5 linked regions of the Homo sapiens genome follow. The protein of the gene in region 4 purifies or fractionates together with the protein of the main gene of each other region. This does not show direct contact. Each region holds a gene or a part of one and is shown on either strand. Other genes may lie near its edges. The genes, in order: EPB41L5, ENAH, AKAP13, ARHGEF18 and GART.

Region 1 (3,696 bases), on a different chromosome or scaffold from region 4:
AGTTTCATCTTACATGATAAACTGCTGCACTATTCAAAGCAAAACTTTAACTAATTGCTTTACAAGCCATGTTTCACAACCATAAATTTATTTCTTTGAGAAAGGGTCTTTCATGATTTTGTAGAGATAGGGGTGGGTCTCACTACTGTTGCCCAGGCTGGTCTCAAACTCCTAAGAGTTGAGCTTTTGGGCTCAAGCAATCCTCCCACCTTGGCCTCCCAAAGTGCTGGGATTAAAGGTGTGAGCCACCACATTTGGCCCCAACCATAAATCTAAAAACCTTCAATTCACCAAAGTGTTTTGGGATTCACACCATAGAGGCAACAATGGCAATTATTTTCATTTTTCAAATAAAGCAATACAATGCATATATATCTCCTCCTTTTAAACAGAACCAATCTGTAAGCCTCCAGAGTGAGCTGACTGATTATGAATTATCATCAGTGGAAACCAAGAGGAAACTTAGGGTTTTAAAATCATCACAATTCATTTATAGCTGTATATTTAATTTACAGCCACACCAAAACTTATGAGTATAAATCATTTTTATAAAAAAGTCAATACTGCCAAACATCAGATCATTACAGCTGTTTTTGGACAACTGGTGATGACTCTGACAGTGGAAATACTTAAAATTAAATTTGCATTTTAATGCAAATTCATTTTAATGCAAATTCAGTTTAAAACCAAACACAAGGTTTAATTTATTTGTCAAGGTAAATAGTGCTTTTTCTTATATAACTGATCTTAATCAGCAAGTAACAATTATGAATTAGGAAATGTCTATGTATAACAATGATGAATATATTTTAAAATGGTATTTAATACAATCCTTAATATTATAATACAATATGAAATAAATTTTACTTAAAAAAAATTCATCACAAGACAATGTTTTGGCCAGGCATGCCTGTAATCCTTTTAGGATTCGGGAGGCCAAGGTGGGTGGATCACTTGAGGTCAGGAGTTCAAGACCAGCCCAGCCAACATGGCAAAACCCCATCTCTACTAAAAATACAAAAATGAGTCAGGAGTGGTGGCGCATGCCTGTAATCCCAGCTACTCAGGTGGCTGAGACATGAGAATCACTTGAATCTGGGAGGTGGAGGTTGCAGTGAGCTGAGATCATGCCACTGCACTCCAACCTGAGCAACAGAGTGAGACTATCTCAAAATAAATAAATAAATAAATAAATAAATAAATAAATAAAAATGTTTTTAAAAATTCCTAAGGGGATTAAGGGATGTTTTAGAATGAGATCTGTAAGTCAAAAAGGGAGAGAATATGTTGCTCTACAGAAACAGTTTTGTATACAAAAACTGAACATAACCTCAGACTATCATTTGAATTGGGATTAACATAAAGTTTAATCTCTGCTAACAATACAGGCAATTTTTCTCTGTGTATCCCATGAAATTGATTCTGCCAGAAAAGTACTTTAGTTGACTGGAACAGACCTGAGGAGGAGATTCAGGTAACTTCCTCTTATGGAAACAACACCAGCACATAATTAATTGCCAAGGAAAAATAATCCTTTGAAAGAGGGTTGCACTTCACCTTTCATTTGTAGAGTTCGTCTAGAATATCGTTTGCTGGGCCTTCTTTCAAAGGATGTTGATCTTCTTGCTTTATTGGTTTTTGTGGTCTGATACTCTGTTTTCCCACTAAATGAGGCATAACAGAAGTAAGGGAAATTTTAGGTCTACAGTAATAAACACACACAAATAAGACAGTCCACATTCAGGTTCTCCTTAAAAGAATCATCCTAAACTTCATCGCACAGGAACAGCTACTAATAGTCTCGATCTCTCTCTTTACCATATCATTCTTTCGGCTTTTGTGAAATATGCAACAGATTATGTTGGTTTTATTTTTCTCATATGCATGCATATCACCTAAGTACACATTAAATAAGTTTGAAATATCTGTCCTTTTATGGAAACTCCCTCTCTTTCCCATCTACATTCCTCAGTGCAAAGTGTGTAATTAAAAGAATATTTTCAGTTACTTTTTCTAATTGTGATATTCACTTTTCAGTATAATTTTCCAGAAATGTTTTTTAAGACTACTGTCTTATTCTCCTTGATTTCCATTTAAATTCTGTTTAGAAAATGCCTCCTTACTTTTAATATAAGTAGACTACAGTACTACTTCTATTAACTCCACACAATCAACTGGCCACATTATTGGTACAATCCATTCCTTCTTTAACTGATTTCCATGGCATGCAGAAAACTCACAACCAATAATCCACTCTGCAGTAAACCAAAACATTTCTAACTCATGACAACAAACAAGGAGTCATGAGAATAATGACCTTCAGGTTTATAAAGGACCACAAATGTTATCCAGACTAATATCCCATTCAGTGCAAGAAACCCTTTTCTATATGGTATCCAGTGGTGGGTGGAGAGTCCATAAAACTCTTGTTAAATAGATAAACTGGGAGTGGGTTAATATATAAAGTAAACATCCAGAGGGATATAAAAGCCATTATACAATTACTGTTTACGCATCTATTCAAGAAATTATAACCAATAACAATACCACTTTTTCTATTTTATTTTGGCCAATGGAAGACTCTGGCAAACCACCTTATTCCTCTATACCTTAGTTACCATATCTGTAAAAAAGAGAAGATTGGCCTAAATTTTTTGGCCTGTATGCAATGAAAGACAGATAAAACAGCAATTAAAATTAACCTATATCTAAATCGTGATCCTAGTCGAATAAATCCTGATCGATGAGAACTCTTTTGGACGGGGCCTCGAAGGCGGAAGAAAGCATGATGCTCCACAGCACATTTCCATAAATGTTTGCATGCTTTTGGATGATCCAGTCTAAAGACAAATGTATGTTCCTGTTCTTTGCCCTGAAAAAGAAAAGTATATATAAAAGGATGATTACTAATTCAAACAGTCCTATCTCCTATTTCTGAGATACAAACACATCCATGAATAAAGGATCTAGTGTGCTCCCTGAAATTCAGACACTCTTTATAGTATCAACATAATAAGGGCAGAGCTGAAATCAAGTTGCTCATTTTATCAGCCAATACAAAATTATTCCTAGGAGTTATTCCCCTCTACTTACATGATCTCATTTGTGAGAGAGACATAAAATGAGATTTTATCTGCCATTATTTGGGATAACTGTATAATTATAATTTGAGGAATCATATCAGATCTGGCAGTATGCATCAACAGCCCTAAAAATGCTCACATTTTTGTCATAGTAATCACACTGCCATGAGTCTAATTATAATAGTTAACATTCATATAGAAATTTTTCTAAGGATTTCACATAAATTATCTCAATGAGTAGATACTATCATTAGCCCCATTTCATAGATAAGGAAACTGAGGCTCAAAGAAATTAAGCCCAAAATCACAAAGCTATTAAGAAAGAAAACCGGAAATGAACTTAAACATTAGTCTTGCTCCAGAATCTACATACACCTCTAACAACTAAGTTATACTGCCTCTCTGGGGAAAATTATTTCCTAAACATCAAAAGTTATATATGAAGATGTATATTTCCTCAGTCTCATTTATAATAGTAAAACTTGGTACAAACCCTAAACGTCCAAAAAAAGAGAAATGGTCAAGTAAATAGAGGCATATGTAAAAAATTATGCAGAGGGATAAATGAATAAATGATGAATGAATGAATGTGCTATTGTTTATTCATATTACA
Region 2 (3,696 bases), on a different chromosome or scaffold from region 4:
TTATTCACTCAAATACTTATGCATACTCACAGAGGCCTGTGCTGGGAACTTGGAATGCAGAGCCAGGTCACGCAAGACCTTAATAATTTTGGTTTTATGACAAATTTGGGTTTTAGTCTAAGATGCCGCTGAAGGCTTTACATGGGAAATAACAATATCTGATTTCCACTTTAAGAGTATTCTGAGTGATGCATGAAGAACAGGGGACATGAATGGAAATGAGGAAACACTAATAGTTCAGGTAAGAGATAACAGTGGCCTGGACTTGAGGCAGTGAGATGGACAGAAGCAAGTGAAGGTGACCTGGTAGGACAATGATAGACTGGATACAGAAAGGTAAAGAAACAAAAAATAAAAAAAAAAACAAAACACAGCACTACTTCTTGATTTTACTTCTAGGAATGTATCCTAAAACAGTATCAGATATGTACACAAAGACATATAACCAAAGATGTTCACAGCAGTGTTTTTTATAATAACAAAAATAATGGAACAAATCTAAAAGTCCATCTTTAAGATTTAAGTAGACAAAGTCATCCATCCAAAGCAATGGAATATTATGCAGTCACTTAAAGTTATGTAGCTATATAGTTAGGAACAAGAATTACTGGCTGGACACAGCAGCTCATGCCTGTAATCCGAGTGCTTTGGGAGGCTGAAGTGGGAGGATGACTTGAGGCCAGGAGTTCAAGACCAGCCTGGGCAACATAGCGAGACCTTGTCTCTGCACAAAAATCTTAACAATTAGAGGGTGTGGTGGCGCACATCTGTAGTCTCAGCTACTCAGGAGGCTGAGATGGGAGGATCGCTTGAGCCCAGGAGTTCGAGGCTGCAGTAAGCTATGATTGCACCACTGCACTCCAGCCTGGGTGACAGTTTAAGACCCTATTTAAAAAATAAAAATAATAAAATGTAAAAAGTATAGATATTATATATATGGAAAGGGACAAGCTACAAAATACACAATACAAATATAGTATAATTCCATTTTTAAATAGTATAATCTTACTTTTATATATAATCATATGCACACGCACAATGATCTGCAATGCTGCAAATGCACTACAAAAAGTTTAGAAATCTACACATTAAAATATTAAAATACTAGATGGCTTGGATTTAACATTTCATAAATAAATGTTTTATACTTTCCATACCTTCTAAAATCTGTTCAAAATCTGTACTACTTTACAATGGAAGGAAAAAAGTAATTTAAAAAAATACTGACCAGACATATGGACAACAGTAATTGATTTATTTTTCTAAAAATAATTCTAAAAAAATTGTGCAAAGACCACAATTAAGTAGACTGTAAGTAAAAGTTTTAAATGAAAACTTAAGATACATAAATCTTAAATTGTTAAAAACTGAACGGTCACAATTTTGCTTGCAATATCAGTCTAACATGAGAATTTGGGGGAGGAGGAGAAAGACTGCAGAACAAAGCAGATATTCAAATAACCAGTATATAATAATTATTAAGACTGCATAAAAAGATCCCTTCACTGAACTGTAAAAGGAGCAATTTGGACTCCCTTGAGATTTGACCTCAAGAGCTATTCATTTTATTTTACTTAAGTTCTTGGTTCTTCATAAAGCTCCCCCGCTGCCAAGTTGCAAATGTAACAGATACCAAAAAGGACAGAAGACTGAGGACCTCTAAGGCACAGTTAAAGGTAGTCATTTTGATTTCACATCATCAGATGTATTCTTACCAAGACCAGATGTTCTATAAGGCCTTTACCACTGGAAAAGGGCTCAGTTTATTTAAAAATATCATGATTACCTCATTCCCCAAAGACAAAACTTTTGGTATTTGAGACTACTGTAAACAAACCCCAGAAAATCACCACCCAGATTTAAGTTTTCTGAAGATTCTGATGGATTTGCTTCATCACATTTTACTGGTGACTTTAGTCATCCTTACTTACAACAGGCCTACCAAAGAGATGGCTGGCTGTCTCCTTAGCACGAAGATACAGCTCCAAAATTTGTTCAGGCCTTTCAAAGCCACCACTACCAAGGTTTCCACCTCAGCATTCCCACGTGCTTGTTTCCCTACAGAGAAATGTCCAGTGGTTCTATCTTCAATCTCTCTTCTTTAAATAGCACGAAGATGTCAATTCAAAATATTAATCCAAAGTAATAAAAATGTCAGAAACAACTCACGTAAAAAGCAAATGAGATCTTCTGGTGTTATTATATAGATCTGTCTATTCTGGGCATTTCATATAAATGGAATCATGGCATATATCGCCTTTTGTGTCTGGCTTATTTCACTTAGCATAATGCTTCCATCTACGCTGTGGCATGTATCAGAATTCCATTCCTTTTGATGGCCAAATATTATTCTGTTGTATGGACATACCACATTTTGATGATCTATTCATGAAATCAGACACACCTGGGTTATTTCTGCTTTTTGGCTGTTATGAATAACGATACTATAGACATTTGTGTACAAGTTTTTCTGTGGACAAATGTTTTCATTTCTAGGAAAGGAATTGCTGGGTCATACGATAACTCTATGTTTAACTTTTGAGGAACTGCCAAACTGTTTTCTAAAGCAGCTGCACCATCTTACATGGTTTTTCACATTCTTAACATAAACTTAAGAGATGTCAGACTTTCATAAAAGTGGGGGATTTACTCTTATCAAGCTCATTTTGTGTGCCAAGTGTTATGCCAGAATTTTATTTAATTTTCTCAACAGCTCTATAATTCACAAAGTATATTCGATCCCAAAAAATGTTTATAACCCACTCAAAAATAAATTATTTAGTAAATGTCAAACTAGAGTCAAACCCAGAGTTAACTTCAAAGCCTGTCCTCTTTACCCTACACCATTCAATCTCTACACTTAGATATACATACATTGCCTCATACCCAAAGTAGTCTTTGGAAAAGTTGCCTGTTAATAAAACTTACTTTAATCATTGTAAAATAGAAGGTTCCCAGTGTAAAGAGATTTCTAGAAAATTTAACGGATATCTTGTATAAATCAATCAACCCCCCTAATTTATCTTCTTTAGTAAACAACTTCTGGTTACTTAAAACAAAACTTATCTAAAGTTCACCTAAATATTAAACAAATTATTTTCTTCCAAAGTTGTATGCACTGACAAAAAAAAAAAATGTAGTTATCTTCTGCTATAGACTGAACTGTGTTCCCCTAAAATTTATATGTTAATACCCTAACCCTCAATGTGACTCTATTTGGAAAAAGGGCTTTTAGGAGGTAACTAATGTTAAATTAAGTTATAAGCACAGGGCCCTAATTCAATAGGATTAATGGCCTTATGAAATGAGGAGGAGAGAGAAATCCCCCCTCATCTCCCCGACCCCAGGATTCCCATACCCACCCTACCATGTGAGGACACAGAGAGAAGGATATCTTCTGCAAGCCAGGAAGAGAACCCTCACCAAAACCCATCCATACTGGCAACCTGATCTCTGACTTCCAGCCTCCAGAACCTTAAAATAAATGTCTAGGCCGGGCGCTGTGGCTCCCACCTGTAATCCCACGAGGTCAGGAGATCAAGACCATCCTGGCTAACACAGTGAAACCCCATCTCAACTAAAAAATACAAAAAAATTAGCCAGGCGTGGTGGCAGGCGCCTGTGGTCCCACCTGCTCAGGAGGCTGAGGCAGGAGAATGGTGTGAACCCGGGAGGCAGAGCTTGCAGTAACCTGAG
Region 3 (3,696 bases), on a different chromosome or scaffold from region 4:
GTAATGATAATAATTTTGGTACATTTTTACATGACTTAAGCATTCTTAAAAGTCTGATGCTTCTGAGTGTAGAGGTTTAGCTATTTCTTTCATAAAGAAGGGGCCTTGAGACTTGTGAGTCTTATCGAAGTCTATTTCTTCAAAGGTGCCAGATGAACTGAAGGATAATGGAAACAATAGCGAGTTTATCTTCTCAGTCACCTGTGAGTCTTCCTTTGAGAGTGGGACTTGCAGAGTGGCTTGGTAGGGTAGAGCTCTTTGTGACTATGCTATTTGGGCAACAGTGAGAGATGGATTGTTTTCAGTACATCAGTCATAAGAGGATATGAGTTCCAACTTTATTTTACCTTAGTCTTGGCAAATAAGTGTGGATTGTGTCTGTATTTCTCAAACTTGTTTAAGGTAGAGCTGGACTGGGTGTTAACAGTGTTAGTTCAGTACAGAGACATGAGCAAATCACTCACTTCCTCTTCAAGATAACACTTTAAAGGTGACACCATTTACAGAAGAAGGCAGTGATTTAAATCAGTTATACTAGCATAGTTTAGAATACTTACACTACCTAGATGGAGTAGATACATTCTAGAAATATTTACCTGTTAAGGACATTTCTTTAGATTTTATTCCATCTTTCCATTAGTTTTCTGATGAAGAGATTATAGTAAACCTTTAAAAATTATATTTGATCAAACTTACAGATTGAGGATAAACCTTTAAAAATTACAGTTGGTCACACTTACAGATTGAGGGTAAAAACATTCCTGACAAAGCTAGGCGAAGAAAGTTGGACTTTTGATGTTCCCTTCTTTTAAAGTTAACATCTGGCACTTGAATAGACTTGGTTATTACTGATGGGGACAGGCATCCATTTGGAAGTAGCTTCCCTCTCTCTTTCCCAGGTTAGGCTGTCTTACTGCTGTAAATGGGGAGAGACGAGAAAGCTGTGGGTGGAAGAAAGTTTGTTTCATAGCCTGGCGCAGTGGCTCACGCCTGTAATCCCAGCACTTTGGGAGGCTGAGGCGGGCGGATCACTTGAGGTCAGGAGTTCAAGACCAGCCTGGCCAACATGGTGAAACCACATCTCTACTAAAAATACAAAAACTAGCCCGGCAGGGTGGCAGGTGCCTGTAATCCCAGCTACTTGGGAGGCTGAGGCAGGAGAATCGCTTGAACCCGGGAGGTGGAGGTTGCAATGAGCCGAGATCATGCCACTGTGCTCCAGTCTGGGCGACAGAGCGAGACTCCGTCTGAAAAAAAAAAAAAAAAAGGTTTGTTTCATGCATCTGTCCTCACTGGTCAGTGGAAGAAAGTTTGTTTCCTGCGTTTGTCCTCATATTTATAGTTTTCTCGTCCACCTACAAGTTGATTGTGACGTTATGAATAGAAGATGAATGGATAATGTGTTTTTGTCAGACCTTGCTGTAAGGATGGACCTGGTACTGAAATACCGTGATTGTATGAACATTTGTGTGGGGCAATGCTGTGTTCAGTGCCTGGGGAATGTGGATATCAGTGTGTTTGTATGATATGGGTGCTAGTATGGGAGAGAAGGAAAACGTGTGAGGTTTTTGACCATTTATGTCACTCTGTAAGCTCTTCTCTGGCTACTTTGGTGCTATAGTAGCAGAGTTGAGTAGTTACAACAGAGACCATGTGATCTGCAAAGCAGAAAATATTTACTATCTGGGCTTTTACAGAAGTTTGCTGACCCTTTTTCTACATAACCAACTGCAGTTATTCACAACAAGAAAGATTAACGTTAATTCTATAATATTATTCAATACCTATTCAACTTTCTCTATTTGTCTCCCAAATATCTTTTATAGTTGATTAAGAAAAATTTTGGACAGAGTAAAATTAAAGTTCACTCAGCACATCATTATGTCTCTTTAGTCTCTATTTTTTCATTCTTTAATTATTCATATGTATAGTTTACATTCACTAAAATTCCGCCATTTTAGTGTAACATTCTCTGAGTTTTGACAGGTGTATACATTCATATATCCACTGCTGCAAACAGGACAGTCCCTTCATCCTCCAGAATTCTTCTGAGCCCTTTTGTACTCAACCGGTTCTCTACCCCCAGACTCTGGAAATTGCTGATCTGTTTTCTGTCTCCATGGTTTTTTGCCTTTTCAAGAATGTTGTAAAAATGGAATCACACGGAATGTAGCCTTTTTATTCATTTGCCCAATGACTAATGATATTAAGTATCTTTTCATCTGATTATTTGTCATTCTTTGATGTCAATTCAAAATCTTTTGCTTAAAAAATGAGTTTTTGTATATACTTTGGAATCAAATACATGATTTGCAGATATTTTCTCCTAGTCTGTTTTTACTTGTCTTAATAATGTCTTTTTTTGTTTGTTTGTTTCGAGATGGAGTTTGGCTCTGTCACCTAGGCTGGAGTACAGTGGTGAGATCTTGGCTCACTGCAACGTCTGCCTCCTGGGTTCAAGTGATTCTCCTGCCTTAACCTCCCGAGTAGCTGGGATTACAGGCACACACCACCACACCCAGCTAATTTTTGTATTTTAGTAGAGATGGGGCTTTTCCATGTTGGCCAGGCTGATCTTGAACTCCTAACCTCAAGTGATCTGCCTGCCTCGGCCTCCCAAAGTGCTGGGATTACAGGCGCGAGCCACTGTGTCTGGCCTTCTTGTCTTAATAATGTCTTTTGAAGAGCAGAAGTTCTTAATTTTTATGATATCCAGTGTTTTTTTGTTTTTTTGTTTTTTCCCTGAGTGGATCATGCTTTTGGTATAATAGTTTAGAAATCTTTGCCTAACTTAAGAGCTCAAAGACTTTCCCCTATATTTCCTCCTACAAGTTATTATTTTTTTTTTTAGAGATGGAGTCTCACTCTGTCATCCAGGCTGGCGTGAGTGAGATCTTGTTCACTGGAATCTCCGCCTCCCGGGTTCAAGTGATTCTCCTGCCTCAGCCTCCTGAGTAGCTGGGATTACAGGCACCCACCACCATGCCTAATTTTTGTATTTTTACTAGTGATGGGGTTTCACCATGTTGACCAGGGTGGTCTGAACTCCTGACCTCAAGTGAGCCACCCACCGCAGCCTCCCAAAGTGCTGGGATTACAGGCGTGAGCTATTGTGCCCGGCTCGCCTAGAAGTTTTATCATTTAAAATTTTATATTTACATTTATTATCTGCTTTGATTTAATTTTCCTAAATGGTGCAAGGTATGCATTGAGTTTATTTTTTTGTGGATGGATTTACAATTTTTCCAGCAACAGTTTTTGAAAAGACTGTCCTTTCTCTGTTGATTACCTTTGTGCCTTTTTTTTTTTGCAAGTTGATCATAAATGTGTGGTTTTGTTTCTGGATTCTCTCTCCTATTCCATTGATCTGTGTCTTTCATTTCTCTATCACCTCACTGTTGATTACTGTCACCTTAGAGTAAGTTTTAAAATCAGGTAGTGTGAGTTATCTTATTATTTTTCAGAATTGTTTTTTGGGTATTTTAGTTGCATTGCCTTTTGTGCATATTTTAGATTCATCTTGCTGTTATCCACAAGTCCTGCTGGGTTTTTCTTTTTCTTTTTTTTCTTTTTTAAGATGAGGTCTCAGCCGGGTGTGGTGGCTCACGCCTGTAATCCTAGCACTTTGGAGGCTGAGGCGGGTGGATCACCTGAGATCAGGAGTTCGAGACCAGCCTGGCTGACATGGCAAAACCC
Region 4 (3,696 bases):
GCGTCAACACCCCCACACCCCCCAGAGTAGCTGGGGACTACAGGTATGTGCCACCACGCCCAGCTAATCAAAAAAAAAAAATTATACAGACAGAGTCTCACTCTGTTGCCCAGGCTGGTCTCAAACTCCTGGGCTCAAACAATCCTCCCACCTCAGCCTCCCAAATTGCTGGGATCATAGGCATGAGCCACCTCGCCCAGCAAATTTTTAAATGTTTTTTGTAGAGACAGGGTCTCACTATCTTTCCCAAGCTGGTCTCAAACTCGTGGCCTCCAAATGATCCTCTCACCTTGGCCTCCCAAAGTGTTGGGATTACAGTGGTATGAGCCACCACATCCAGCTACAGGAAGATTTTGTAACAGATGGCAGTGTCTTAGGCAGGAGGCACCTTCACCTGTTTGCTCCAAGGAACCCCTATGCCAGTGGCAGCCTGCTCCTCTCCAACTCTTGTCTTCTATCCTCCTCCCTCCTCTTCTGCCCCATTTTTCTTCCCTTGAACCCAGCCTTGTCTTTTTTCTATTTTTTTGAGACAGAGTTTCACTGTGTTGCCCAGGCTGGAGTACAATGGTGCAGTCTCAGCTCACTGCAACCTCCAACTCCTGGGTTCAATCAATTCTCCTGCCTCAGCCTCCTGAGTAGCTGGGATTACAGGTGCGTGCCACCACGCCTGGCTAATTTTTGTATTTTGAGTAGAGACGAGGTTTCGCCATGTTGGCCAGGCTGGTCTCGAACTCCTGACCTCAGGTGATCTGCCTGCCTCAGCCTCCCAAAGTGCTGGGATTACAGGCGTGAGCCACTGTACCCAGCCCTCACCCAGTCTTCTCTACCCCTGTCTCCTACACCTGTGCACACCCCTGCATGCTTCCTGCTTTTGTCTCCCACTTTGCTCCCCTCAAGCCTGTCCCGATTCCCACTTACCCATGGTACTGTCGAAGTTCTTGAAGCACCTGCTGGACAATCAGCCTGTGGGGGTGGAGGTGGGATTAGAACAGCCCATGGTAGCTCCAGGTTACAGACACTCTCCCCTAGATAAGCTGGGGTTGCCCAAGCAGGCCTCAGGTCCTGATGCAGACCCTACTCAAAGCCACAGTCAGCCGGGCACAGTGGCTCACGCCTGTAATCCCAGTACTTTGGGAGGCCAAGGTGGGCGGATCACCTGAGGTCAGGGGTTCGAGACCAGCCTGGCCAACATGGTGAAACCCCGTCTGTACTAGAAATACAAAAATTAGCCGGGCGTGGTGGCGGGCGCCTGTAGTCCCAGTTACTCTGGAGGCTGAGGCAGGAGAATCACTTGAACCCAGGGGGCAGAGGCTGCAGTGAGCTGAGATCACGCCACTGTACTCCAGCCTGGGTGACAGAGTGAGACCCTATCTCAAAAAAAAAAAAAAAAAAAAAAAAAAGCCACAATTGTCTCCCAAGGCTACATTGAGAACCTTTCTGAGGGGCCTGGGTCCCTCCCACCGGGAGAAGGATGGTGGCAGAAAGATGAGGTTATGGGGGGACTAGTGGGATGGTGTCTGGCCCTGGTCACTTATGGCCAGCAACACTGCACCCTGGCAGCCCTCCTCCCGCAGCCCTGACTTTGTGGCCTGTTCCCTGGGGGTCCCTCCCCCACCACGAGGCAGAAACTCACACGTGATCTGGTTCCACATGGTCTTTTTCCATGCACTCCAGCACTGGAGGTTCCAGGCCTGGAAGAAGCCCCCCATCCCAGGAAGCACAGTTGTCAGGAGCTCTGGGACAGGACCAGCCCAGCAGAGCCCTCCCGGATGCCACCCTGGGCCCCTGCAGAACTGGAGGCCATGCAGACAGGGCCTGTACTCTCAGGCAACAGAGACGAGAAGAGGACAGAGAGCCAGGGACAAACGCAGGTGTCCCCAGTGTCTCGTGAGTGCTTACAACCTACTAAGTGCTTTACGTGTGTGAGATCAGCAGACTCTCCAAGTGGCCTGAAGGAGATACGCTTATTGTCCCCCCTCCCCTTTTTTTCCTTAGACACAGTCTCGCTCTGTCACCCTGGCTGGAGTGCAATGGCTCAATCTCAGCTCACTGCAACCTCCGCCTCCTGGGTTCAAGCAAGTCTCCTGTCTCAGCCTCCCGAGTAGCTGGGATTACAGGCGCACACCACCATGCCCGACTAATTCTTGCGTTTTTATATTTTTAGTAGAGACGGGGTTTCACCATGTTGGCCAGGGTGGTCTCGAACTCTGGACCTCAGGTGATCCACCTGCCTCGGCCTCCCAAAGTGCTAGGATTACAGGCGTGAGCCACCGCACCAGGCCTTTTTTTTTTTTTTTTTGAGACGGTTTCACTCTGTCACCCAGAGCGGAGCGCAGTCCTGCCATCAGAACTCACTGCAGCCTTGACCTCCTGGGTTTAAGTGATCCTCCCATCTCAGCCTCCAAAGTAGCTGGGACTACAGGTGCACACCGTCATGCCTGGCTAATTGTTTTTTGTATTTTTAGTAGAGACAAGGTTTCGCCATGTTGCCCAGGCTGGCCTCAAACTCCTGGGCTCAAGTTATTCACCTGCCTCAGCCTCCCAAGGTGCTGGGATTCCAGGTGTGAGCTGCTGCACCTGTTCTAATAGAGGAAGCCACAGAGGCTCAGAGACTTGTTATGTGTTTAGACTCCAGGTTTGTCTGATGCCAGAGAGGTGCAAGATCTCAGGATAAAAATTCAGAGATAAAGAAAGAGATAAAGAAATAGTCAGAATGCTGGGCGCGGTGGTTCATGCCTGTAATCTCAGAACTTTGGGAGGTTGAGGCGGGCCGATCACTAGAGGCCAGGACTTTGAGACCAGCCTGGCCAACATGGCGAAACCCTGTGTCTACTAAAAATACAAAAATTAGCCGGGCATGGTAGCGGGTGCTTGTAGTCCCAGCTACTTGGGAGGCTGAGGCCGGAGAAGGGCATGAACCCGGGAGGCGGAGGTTGCAGTGAACTGAGATTGCACCACTGCACTGCAGCCTGGGCGACAGAGCAAGACTCTATCTCAAAAAAAAAAAAGAGTCATAGAGAGAAGAGAGAATCTTGGGGACAAGCTCATTGCAATGGGGCAATCTCACACTGGCTCAAGAGCTGCAGGGAGAGGAGGAGGGACAGATGCTGGAGGTCCCTTCCCCTCTCTGGCTTCCCCCAGCGTTCTGCTCAGTCCCTGCCCAGGGGACCCTAAGCCAGCTCCCTTCCCTTCCCTGGGGCCCATCTGGAGCCCCACCAAGGGGACCCTCCAGGATGAAGGATGAAACCCCAACAGGGTTTCACCATGTTGGCCAGGCTCCTCTTTCCCTGACTTGGTTTGAATGAAGGAAACTCCCAGGCTGGCTACCTTGAACAGGTGGAGTGGGCACTTCCAAACCCGGAGAGATTTCCGGAGAGCGGATCTCATAGAAGGACACAGGAACGGACCTTGACCTCCCTCTTTTCTTGGGGCTGTCACATTCCTGCAGGGGATTAAACATCTCACTAAGCTGGGAAGGCAGCCTGGACTGCAGGCAGGTTCCCTGGATTGAGGGGCCCAACCCACAGCCAGGGCCACCTCCACAGAAATGGGGTGACACACTCATCCAAGCCTCAGCCTCCAGCCACTCCCCCCAGCCATAAGACATGGGTTCAGCCACCCCCTCCCCAGCCACAGGGCTGTAGTCCTGGCGGAGGAGCCTCCAGCTCTGAGCTGGAGCCCCAGGTATCAGAGCCA
Region 5 (3,696 bases), on a different chromosome or scaffold from region 4:
TCAAGAGTTCAAGACCAGCCTGACCAGCCTGGCCAACATGATGAAACCCCATCTCTACTAAAAATACAAAAAATTAGCCAGGCATAGTGGCAGGTGCCTGTAATCCCAGCTACTCAGGAGGCTGAGACAGAAGAATCACTTGAAACTGGGAGGCGGAGTTTGCAGTGAGCCGAGTCTGCGCCACTGCACTCCAGCCTGGGCGACAGAGTGAGACTCTATCTCAAAAACAAAAACAAAAACAAAACAAAAAAAAACTGAAATAAAATAACTGGATTGTTTGTAACACAAAGAATAAATGCTTGAGGTGATGAATACCCCATTTACAGGGATGTGATTATTACAGGTTGTATGGCTGTATCAAAAGATCTCATGTACCCTATAAATATATATACCTACCATGTACCCATACAAATTAAAAATTAAAAAAACTCCCTTCCTCTTGGGATAATGGATTAATAGATTGTGAAAAGCACAGATATTCCTGGATAGCCTCCAGTTCCATCCATATTGCTGCAAACGACGTGGTTTAGGATATGTAATTGCTCCTAGGATATGTAATTGCTCCCACAAATTCTGTATCTTGTGATCTAGCATTGTAGTAGAAACAGTATAACATTATGTTAAAACTGACTGATGAGAAATAAGCTGCTTAATTAAGCAAGAAAAACTGACCCTCTCAAGAACAAACCACTATGCTATGACTCTTACAATAGTTTCTTTAAAAAAAAAAAATTTTAGATTCGGGGGTACACACGCTTGTTTATTACATGGGAATGTTGTATAATGGTGGGGACTGGGCTTCTAGTGTACCTATTACCTACATAGTGAACATTATACCTGATAGAAAAATTTTCAACCCTCACCTCTTCTCCCACACTTCCCTGTTTTGTATCTATTGTTTCCATCTTTTTTTTTTTTTTTTTTTTTGAGATGGAGTCTTGCTCTGTCTCCAGGCTGGAGTACAGTGGTGCAATCTCAGCTCATTGCAACCTCTGTCTCCAGGGTTCAAGCAATTCTCCTGTCTCAGCCTCCAGAGTAGCTGGACTACAGACGTGTGCCACCATGCCCAGCTAATTTTTGTATTTTTAGTGGAGACAGGGTTTCACCATGTTGGCCAGGATGGTCTCGATCTCTTGACCTTGTGATCCGCCCGCCTCAGCCTCCCAAAGTGCTAGGATTACAGGCGTGAGCCACAGCACCCGGCCCTATTGTTTCCATCTTTATGTCCACATGTACCCACTGTTTAGCTCCCACTCATAAGTGAGAACATGCAATATCTGGTTTTCTGTTTCTGAGGCAGTTCACTCAGGATAATGGCCTCCAGTTCCATCCATATTGCTGCAAATGATGTGGTTTTATTCTTTTTTATGGCTGCATCTTACAATAGCTTCTTTGCTTTATTATCAACTTGGGCCTAAAGTACATTAAAACCTTAAGATCGACCTGTAAAGCAATTAAACTTCTGGGAATGAATCCTGAAGAAGTATCAGAGCTGGTTGTGGTGCTGCATGCCTGCAGTCCCAGCTACTCGGGGGGCTAATAAGGCGGAAGGATTGCTTGAGGCCAGAGCTGGAAGCTGCAGTGTACTATGACTGCATCTGTGAATAGCTACTGTACTCTAGCCTGGGCAACATAGCAAGACTGTCTCAAAAAGAATCACTATGATCTTGGCCATCAAATAAAAAAAAATCACATATGCATTTAAGAACATACTGAATATTTGCAAGAATGTTCATAGCAGTGTTACTTACAATAGAGGGAAAAAAATCAGGCTACATCCATCTGAGAGAATACAATACTCTTATTACTTTACCCCTCTATCCATAAAGGTTAAACATAAACTTCTTCTAATTAATAAGATAACAATAAAAATTCCTCAACTGTTTTCAGACTTTTCAACAACAAAGCTATGATACAAAATGAGCTGTAGCTTCTATCTTTTCTGGTTTCTCTTTAACCAGCTTTCTGACATCCTTTACTTTTTTCTTTGGGAGCTGTCTCAAATTCCTAAGAAAAGTGGAAAGACTAAGAATGCTGAAAAGACAAAGACAACCCTCATGATTCCCCCCAGTCCCTAGACTCTGCCGAGAGTAACCTTACAATCTCACAAGAGTGCGGGGAGGAAAGGAAGGGCAGTCAACAGCTCTACAGTGAAGGGGAAGCCACATCTCACCTGTTCCAGATATTAAGACAGCCACTCTGGCCTTTTTTTTTTCAAAAGAGAAATGATTTGTCAGGGAGCCATTCTTCAACACTGACCCATTTATTTGCATGCTTTCAATCAGATTCTTGACTTTCACACGTGGGGAACCTTCATTTCAAACATATCCATAAATAAGTAAAGAACAATTGTGAATTAACAAGAATAATGGAAAGAAAAATATTTTATGAAAACTTTAGGGTATGTTTTATCCTGAAAATAAGATAATGCAAGGACTAAAATGAACAACACATTTGTATCACTTAACACTACTCTTTCATAAAAACTTCCAAAAGGTGAACATATGTAATTACTTCAACTAAAAGCTGCAGATCACATCACTATCTTGAAGTGCACGGTGGATATATATGACTGCCTGCCAGTATTCTGCCCCTACTCCCCAAATCTTCCTAGCGAGACCACCCACAGTAGTGCCATGATCTCCTGGTCTCGGGGATAAGCATGTGACCTAGCAAAGCCATTTAAAGGCTTGATATGCGATGTTAAGAAAAAGAGGGTCTCTCTTTTTTTTCTTTTTGAGATGGAGTCTCGCTCTGTTGCCCAGGCTGGAGTGCAGTGGCGCGATCTCGGCTCACTGCAAGTTCCGCCTCCTAGGTTCACGCCATTCTCCTGCCTCAGCCTCCCGAGTAGCTGGGACTACAGGCGCCCGCCACCACGCCCGGCTAATGTTTTGTATTTATTAGTAGAGACGGGGTTTCACTGAGTTAGCCAGGATGGTCTTGATCTCCTGACCTCGTGATCCACCCGCTTCGGCCTCCCAAAGTGCTGGGATTACAGGCGTGAGCCACCACGCCCGGCTGGGTCTCTCTTTCTTATTGTAATGTGAGCTGAAGGATGTTATCTTTCCGGCATTTGGAGAACCCGCTTGAAAATGAATCCTACACAATAGAGGAAAGAAAGGCAGATACAGGTAAAGTCAACAAGGTCTGACATTTTTTTTTTCTATTTTTTATTTTTGTGAATCTTCTCTGTATCGTTCCAATTTTAGTATGTGTCCTGCCAAAGCAAGCATGTGACGTCTTTGTTAGTGAATCTGAGTGGATTTTCTGCCCCTCTGCCAAGTTCTAGCACTTCTCGCAGAGTCCTGACTGATACAGTACTTGTCAGGGTGCTTGCTCGCTATTCCTTGAATCGAGCTGAGTGACAGCAGAGCCATGAGGTCTTGTGTGTAGGGAGATTACTTTGGGAAGCGATCCTGTGGGGTGTGGCTGTGCATGCATGAATGCTTAGTTCTGAGGCAGAAATGAAGAGATACGTGGTATCGCTGGGGTGGGTGCTGTCATGTTACATCTGTGTAAAGATAGTTGCCATAGCGATGGCTGCACTAAAAGGTGGGCAGAAAGCTTGTGAGGCAAGGCTGAGGTATAGCTAAAATTATACAGCTAAAATTATATATCTAAAAATGAGTAAGGAGCAAGTACCTTCAGCTCGTGCAACCACACTGCCAATCACCCAGGCTTCTTCCTTGTGCTGCT

What was found.
Region 1: the proteins of ARHGEF18 (region 4) and EPB41L5 purify together in Homo sapiens (co-immunoprecipitation; one large-scale study listed by IntAct). This does not show direct contact.
Region 2: the proteins of ARHGEF18 (region 4) and ENAH fractionate together in Homo sapiens (co-fractionation; one large-scale study listed by BioGRID). This does not show direct contact.
Region 3: the proteins of ARHGEF18 (region 4) and AKAP13 purify together in Homo sapiens (affinity purification with mass spectrometry; one large-scale study listed by BioGRID and IntAct). This does not show direct contact.
Region 5: the proteins of ARHGEF18 (region 4) and GART purify together in Homo sapiens (affinity purification with mass spectrometry; one large-scale study listed by BioGRID and IntAct). This does not show direct contact.

The regions. Positions count from the first base shown.
Region 1 is NC_000002.12:120,089,523-120,093,218, reverse strand, and holds part of EPB41L5 (band 4.1-like protein 5), read right to left. Parts: intron 2,873-3,696; coding exon 2,703-2,872; intron 1,665-2,702; coding exon 1,558-1,664; intron 1-1,557. UniProt on the Homo sapiens protein: Plays a role in the formation and organization of tight junctions during the establishment of polarity in epithelial cells.
Region 2 is NC_000001.11:225,643,045-225,646,740, forward strand, and holds part of ENAH (protein enabled homolog), read right to left. Parts: intron 1-3,696. UniProt on the Homo sapiens protein: Ena/VASP proteins are actin-associated proteins involved in a range of processes dependent on cytoskeleton remodeling and cell polarity such as axon guidance and lamellipodial and filopodial dynamics in migrating cells.
Region 3 is NC_000015.10:85,383,467-85,387,162, forward strand, and holds part of AKAP13 (A-kinase anchor protein 13), read left to right. Parts: intron 1-209; exon of another isoform or gene 210-269; intron 270-596; exon of another isoform or gene 597-644; intron 645-740; exon of another isoform or gene 741-931; intron 932-3,696. UniProt on the Homo sapiens protein: Scaffold protein that plays an important role in assembling signaling complexes downstream of several types of G protein-coupled receptors.
Region 4 is NC_000019.10:7,376,389-7,380,084, reverse strand, and holds part of ARHGEF18 (rho guanine nucleotide exchange factor 18), read right to left. Parts: intron 3,443-3,696; coding exon 3,328-3,442; intron 1,692-3,327; coding exon 1,634-1,691; intron 964-1,633; coding exon 919-963; intron 1-918. UniProt on the Homo sapiens protein: Acts as a guanine nucleotide exchange factor (GEF) for RhoA GTPases. Its activation induces formation of actin stress fibers. Also acts as a GEF for RAC1, inducing production of reactive oxygen species (ROS). Does not act as a GEF for CDC42.
Region 5 is NC_000021.9:33,507,610-33,511,305, forward strand, and holds part of GART (trifunctional purine biosynthetic protein adenosine-3), read right to left. Parts: coding exon 3,643-3,696; intron 2,312-3,642; coding exon 2,174-2,311; intron 1-2,173. UniProt on the Homo sapiens protein: Trifunctional enzyme that catalyzes three distinct reactions as part of the 'de novo' inosine monophosphate biosynthetic pathway.